Linked DNA regions of Homo sapiens. The protein of the gene in region 2 interacts with the protein of the main gene of each other region in a pairwise test. Each region holds a gene or a part of one and is shown on either strand. Other genes may lie near its edges.

Region 1 (3,500 bases), on a different chromosome or scaffold from region 2:
AGAGCTGGTTACCTCTTCCAAGGGAATTCCTAGCTCAGCTTTCAGCCGTCTCTGTGCTGCTCGCCTCACTCCAAGGGCGTCACTTTCCTCAAGCTCGGCTGGATTGCTTAATGGATGACTACAACACGTATTCGTAAAACAACCTGGAAAATGGTAATACAGAGACAGATCAACTTTTCTTCAAAGTAGGTCTGAAAGATCAAGAAAAAGTTTTATAAGTAACTGAAAAATGAAATGATTTTTAAGGATTTTAAAATCAGTTATAATGGGCTATCAGTAATTATTTTAAGGATTTTAAAATTGGTTATAATGGGCTATCAGTAATTATTTTAAGGATTTTAAAATTGGTTATAATGGGCTATCAGTAATTATGTTGTGAAACAGACTACATTTGTAGGTAGGTTCCTTATTAATACTTCTTTAACCAAAAAAGATCAAAGTGTAGATAATACAGATTAAAGATAAATATGTAAATTATACATATTGCCCAATTGCTTACTAGTTCTTATTTTTTCTTGCTGTTGTATTAGGTTGCACTCATTGTGTAAACTCACTTTATGCAGAATATAAAATTATGCCATTCACAGGATTTCCCTTTGTGACCTTGGCTCCAAGAATTCAGAATGATAAAAAGTCAAATTAATGTACAAACACAATATTGTACATTAAAAGTGTACTAACCTGGAAAGGTAATCTTAGCATCTGATCTTTGCTGTAGCAGAAGCTTATTTTCGGTGTTGAATAAGAAGACACTAAAAGCTCGATGCAATAATCCTGAAAGCAAAAGAAATAACAATTATTTTAGCCTTAAGTACCAGTTATTTGCCAAATTCTCTCCCTGCAGTTCAGAATAACATTAGTAACTTGCTGCTGCTTTTGCTTTTTCCCATGGTTTATCCACATGCATAGTCTCTGCATGGCTATGGTGAGGAAGAGCTCTGCACTGGGCAAGGAAGTTGGCCGTCGAGTGAAGGAAATGGTGATGCTGGTGGCCCCTTTCCGGCAGTCAAGTTCCCTATCAAGGACATTCAGTTCTCGGAAAGTGGTGAAGGCACATGCTTCCCTGCATGGTGCCCGCCTCTCTCCACTCTCTAGAAATATTAGAGGCTAGGCTGCTGCTGTATGTCAGGGCTAGTCCCTCTTCTATGAATCCAGAATAACTCTGAAGAAGCCGAGTAACAGGCATGAAGTGAAGAGAAATCGCTGTAACAGGAAGACAGCAAAGCAGATGCTAATGACCACACTATTTAACGAACTGGAACCAACGAGAAAATACGGTATTACTGAAGACTGCACTTCCTTGAACAGAGTGCTCTTCTCAGCAAATCGGAAATGCCTACACAAATCGCTTTACAAGAAAGACTGTTTCAAAGCAGCACCTTTCTCAATGTTCTCGTTCAGGTGACAATTCTTCTTGGTCTCAGCTCCAATTTTATTGTCATTTTCATCAATAAGGATACACATCTCTGCCAGGAGTTGAACCTGTTGCTTGTCGAGGTGGTTAGTGTTTATTTCAGGCATCATTACAAAATGTCTGATCTGTTCTAGAACACTAATATTAAAGGAAAAGAGAAAGAAAGGCCATCATATATTTTTCTGAATGTCATATAAACACAGGTTAATAATGATGCTGCTTCCCCATCTGCAGTTGTACCACTCTGCATCCCCACAGGGACCCCAAGAACGCTGCCAGCCGGCTGCTCAGCACTATCTGGGTCATCATTTCTCCTACAGGTTTCACAGCTGGCCTTTTATCACAGTCATGCTCCTGAAGGCCAAGCTCAACGTTCCGCTCTAAATTCTTGACCTCTGAGATCCTCTGCAGCACTTGATACTCAATCCTTTTTCCAGTGTACTTTTCTTCTCTGGTTTTTGGCCCCAACCTAACTTTTCATCCTGCTTTTCTACACCAGCTTCTGTAATCTCTAGAATGTGCTCCCATTGCCATCCTGAATTGTTTTTCCCACTGCCTGTCTCTGCATAGTTGCTCAAGATTGCCACAGGCCAATCTTGGTTGAAATCCATTTTTTCAAGGCACAACTCGTGCCAGACATTCAATAACCTTTCTACCAATGTCACAGTAAGACTTAATCCAGTTTTTCTCAACCCAAGCTCCTGGGTTATCAGAAAAATTATTTGTATGAGTTTTGTCAATTTCCCCCAGGACAGTACTTAGCTGATATCATTCTAGATAAACAGGAGAAGACTTAATTCGTTATATTCAATAGATGCTTTAAGGCAGTGCTTGGCAAGTTTTTTCTGTGAAGGGCCAGAGAGTATGAACTCTGCCTCTGTAACACTAAAATAGTCACAGGCAATAGGTGAACTGGGCAGTATGTAAACTGAGTGTGGGTGCATGCCAATATTTATGGACACTGAATTACATTTAATTTTCATGTGTCACAAAATATTTTGATTCTTCTCCATCCGTTTAAATATGAGAAAAACACTCAGCTCACAGGACGTAACAACAGGCAGCAGGCCAGATTTGGCCTATAGGCCATAGTTGGCCCATTCCTACCTTAGTGCATCAAACATTAATTTTCTGAACCCCCATTTATCCCTCCCATGTGATTACAACGTAAAGCACTTATTAGGGTACTTTCAGTATTCTGACTCACACTTTTACATATCTGTATCCAGCAGCGTCTAAGCTTTCTAATCTTTGTATCCTTCAGGGCACCTTTACATAGTCTGACCTTGAAGTTTTTTATTCCCTTTTTTCTTCTCCTTTATTTCTGAATGAATAATAATTTTTGTTTTCTGATTTTTCTACCCAATATATTTTGAAGATCCCATGTGCTCTACTTTCTATGTGACTCTATTTCAAATACATAGATTTTACTGAAATACTTTTTTGTTTCTGAGAGGGAGTCTCGTTTTGTTGCCCAGGCTGGAATGCAATGGTGCAATCTCAGCTCACTACAACCCCCACCTCCTGGGTTCAAGTGATTCTCCTGCTTTGACCTCCCAAGTAGCTGGGACTACAGGCGTGCACCACCACGCCAGGCTAATTTTTGTATTTTTAGTAGAGACGAAGTCTTGCCATGCTGGCCATGCTGATCTCGAACTCCTAACCTCAGGAGATCTGCCTGCTTTGGCCTCCCAAAGTGTTGAGATTACAGGAGTGAGCCACCACACGGGGACCACTGAAATACTTTCAACAGAGTTCAAGCATACTGCAGAATGTACACAAAGTGTTTAAACAGCTACTTAATACAAAGTTCTAGACCCACATAGGGTCTGGGTGTGTGTGTGTGTGTGTGTGTGTGTGTGAATGCGTGTGTCAGGAGTCAGTGATGATGGAGATATTGATATCTAATACAAAAAATCTGAAATAAGGTTAATGATTAAAACAAATCAAGAGGGAAAATAATGTGAAAAGGAAGTCAACTTCAGAGTTAGCCTCAATTTTAGAAAGATTTCCAACTTCTATAGGCTAGTTTTATATACAGTCATCCTTTGGTATATATGGGAGTTAGTTCCAGGACCTCCCACAG
Region 2 (3,500 bases):
AAGTGACTAACAGTACATGTCTAAAGACCTTAAAAAGTATCGAAATTATCTTAACCATGGAAATATCCAGCTGCAAATACATGCCAAATTCCTTATCTGTAATTTTTGTAACTGAACAAACAAGCCCCTGTATTACAGCATGAAGAAGTTTTTGAAACTGAAATGTACTGCTCACTTCACAATCATGTTCTGTCTATCCTTGCTATTTAGCTTGGGGAAGGTTATCAAGTTCTGAGGAGAGGAGAAAGGAGAAAAGGAAGGGAGCCAGAAAGAAAGGGTGGGACCAAGAAGCCAAGGAACTTAAGACGAGTTAAGAACAGGTAGAAAGGCCAGGCACGGTGGCTCACGCCTGTAATCCCAGCACTTCGGGAGATCAAGGTGGGCGGATCACCTGAGGTCGGGAGTTTGACACCAGACTGACCAACATGGAGAAACCCCATCTCTACTAAAAATACAAAATTAGCCGGGCGTGGTGGCACATGCCTGTAATCCCAGCTACTGGGGAGGCTGAGGCAGGAGAATCGCTTGAACCCGGGAGGTGGAGGTTGCGGTGAGCGAGATGGCACCATTGCACTCCAGCCTGGGCGACAAGAGCTAAACTCCGTCTCAAAAAGAAAAGAGAATGGGTAGAAAGACAGAATGCTAAAACTGTCAGCAGTCCCCCAGATGGAAGACAGGAGAGAAATAATTTAAAACAACAGAAAGCCTTTTCTTTGTGGTCCAGAGAGAGGAAGAGGAGATCTGGATAAAACTGCTGAAAAATTTGGGGGCGGGGGTGAGGTGAAGAACCTAACAGTAAGTCTTGGAAGATGAAATACAACTCTGTTGATTACTGAAGGATGAACCAAATAACAGGACTGGGCCCACACAATAAAGAAGAAAAGAGGGCGGCTGGTTGTGGAGTTAAAGCAGAGAGAAGAAAAAGAAACAGCTACAGAAATTCCCCAAGGTGCAGGGTACAGGGCTGGGGAAGGTGCGAATGTTTGGGAATAAAAACAAACTTTGAAAAACAACAAAAAACAAGTCTTTTCAAAGCCTGGCCTCAGACTTAGGGTAAGTTCTCCCTGAGAGATTTAAAGGTAAATAAAGAAGAAGCAAGTTAAGACTGAAAGCTTTGACTGATCTAACAGGAACATGTGGCATTATGGTTGTAATGCCACAAATTTAGTATTTAGTATTTTGTGAAGTATTCACAAAGAAATGAACAGGATGCTGCATAATTTTTTACATTGTTTTCCAGGGGCATGTTGATGAGAAATGCTACTCCCTCCATTTTGTCCCCAGCATGTGTATGATGAATAAGAAGAGGTGGGGGCGGGGGAGAGAGATTCTTCCCATCCACCAAATGCTACCCTGATTACCCACGTCAGTCCTAACTCCTGCATTGCCCCAGGTGCCAGTCAGCAAGGCCTACGCCATTTGCTTTGCCATCTCCGCATTGTCCACTCACTTGCTCTGCCCTTCTGTCCATTTCACTGAGCTGGAGCTCCCAGCAGCAACTCTAGAAAAGAAGAAGAGGTGGGGAGTGGGGAATGGAGCATGCATGGATCTGGCAAGCCCCCCAGATCCCAGAATCCAGTGAAAAGCCCCTCAATACACAGAGACATCAAGCTAGCTATCAAGAGTGCTGAACTAAGTCCCCAGTCCCACTGGGGCCAATGGTGGGGTGGAAGGCACCACCGGAGGCTGCAAAGAGCTTGGGCTTTGGAATCAGATCTGGACTTGGCATCCCAGCTCTAGCACTTAGTAGGATGTGAACCTGGGAAGTAACTTAACCCTCTGAGCTTGGTTTACTTATCTGTAAACCAAGCAGTACTTAGCTCTCATGAGAGTGTTGGGAAGATAAGATGAGGTAACCTGGAAGGACACCTGACACGCTGCAGGCACTTCATGAGTGTTCTATGCTACTGCCCATCTCTTCACACTTGGTAGAAAATGAAAAGTGAGCTCTTTCAATGGTGAAAGCAAGTCCCACCTGCCTTCTTTTTTTTATTTTTTCATTTTTAGGTGCAAAGAGTAGCTCCTTCTGATGTTTCCTGGCTGTATTCTCCCTATTATGGTTGTATTATCAAGTATGGAAAGAAAAACCCTGTTGGTGCAATCAGGTATGGGCGTATCTGACTGTGAATTGCCCAGATCAGCATCACACAAATACAAATTTGGATCCCGGACTTTGCACACCCAAAGCACTTCTTGATAAGATAGTGGAATGGTTAACAACTGTGATATCATAGTAAAACACAATTATTAAATGAGGTTGAATAGCCTTTGAAGAATTATAAAACATTCAACAAGACCATAATAAGTGTCCTCAATATTCCTTGTTCCAGATAGAAACAACCCACATTTATGTTTTTGAAAATTTAATACTGAACACAACTCACCAACTAGGGGAAGGAGGAAAGCGTTCTAATGTCACAGAGAGCTTTGCCCTTTCTTCTAAAACTGTACTTTCTTCATAAGTTCTAAGCACCTTTGAAATGGTTCAAACAGGTATAAGTTACTGTGGAAAGGCAATGGAATAGAGAAAACCTTACCCCTTTAAGGTGGCTCCTAAGTTCATCTGATTCCAGGTCATGCATTCAAGCTGGGATGTCATTTGGTATAAATTGTCACTGTTAGAAAAACATCTAGAGTTAGAAACACATAACCACAAAATAATACACAACTGTTTCTTCAAAAGCAATGGAGTTTTAACTTTTCTTGAAAGTGCAAGCCTCCACATTTTCCAGAATGACAGAATATGCAAATCTGAATTATTTTCATTTCATCCCACTGATCTCTGCACAGTTATACACTTCATACACAGCAGAAGGGATGTGAGAGTAACTCAGAAGCATTTTTTAAAACCTTTGTATAGCAACTATTGAAGTTTCTAAAGAAGTATTAAACCTTTGAGGGGAAAAGGCTAAGGGGAGTGAAACTTTGAAAGGCAACACAGGCTGGATAACTCAACATTAAAGTTAAAAGCCTGGAGCTGAAAGTAAAGACAGCAGATTAATTATTCGTGAAAAGGCCATTAAGTTGTTTTAATCAAAAGGATAAGTATCATGTGGATTATGAGGGTCTGAAAAGTCAGAGTGATGGGTGATAAATGGTCTAAAAAGCAAGGATGTGACAAGCAGAAGAAAGACGATGATAAACTCTATGCACAGCGGAAGGAATCATTTTCTATATGTTTTATAATCCTGGTACAAGTCAAATTAAAAAAAAAAAAAAAGAGCCCAGTTCTATAAGACTCTATGAGGGAAATGGCTTATCATTTACATTAAGACTCCAAAGAAGTCTTACACCGCTATGTAAACCAACAAAAAGCTGTTCTGTCCCCTCTGTATTTATCTCATTCCTAGAAAATTAGCACATGAATCAATTGCCAGAAATCTCCTAAATTACCAAGCTCCATCAGGAATAAATTTATGCCTGAACTGAAATGGTTAATTATGAAATTTGAGACCCAAGAGACCAAGAGTTTTTCTGGGACCTCTTGGTCTAAACACTTT

Evidence for each region. Proteins that work in one complex are often made in the same cells at the same time.
Region 1: the proteins of WT1 (region 2) and IDI1 interact in a two-hybrid assay, tested with the Homo sapiens proteins (one large-scale study listed by BioGRID and IntAct).

What each region holds. Positions count from the first base shown.
Region 1 is NC_000010.11:1,042,620-1,046,119, forward strand, and holds part of IDI1 (isopentenyl-diphosphate Delta-isomerase 1), read right to left. Parts: intron 1,583-3,500; exon of another isoform or gene 1,553-1,582; coding exon 1,380-1,552; exon of another isoform or gene 891-1,379; coding exon of another isoform or gene 869-890; intron 775-868; coding exon 682-774; intron 144-681; coding exon 13-143; intron 1-12. UniProt on the Homo sapiens protein: Catalyzes the 1,3-allylic rearrangement of the homoallylic substrate isopentenyl (IPP) to its highly electrophilic allylic isomer, dimethylallyl diphosphate (DMAPP).
Region 2 is NC_000011.10:32,415,040-32,418,539, forward strand, and holds part of WT1 (Wilms tumor protein), read right to left. Parts: intron 2,616-3,500; coding exon 2,538-2,615; exon of another isoform or gene 2,385-2,537; intron 1,502-2,384; coding exon 1,451-1,501; intron 1-1,450. UniProt on the Homo sapiens protein: Transcription factor that plays an important role in cellular development and cell survival. Recognizes and binds to the DNA sequence 5'-GCG(T/G)GGGCG-3'. Regulates the expression of numerous target genes, including EPO.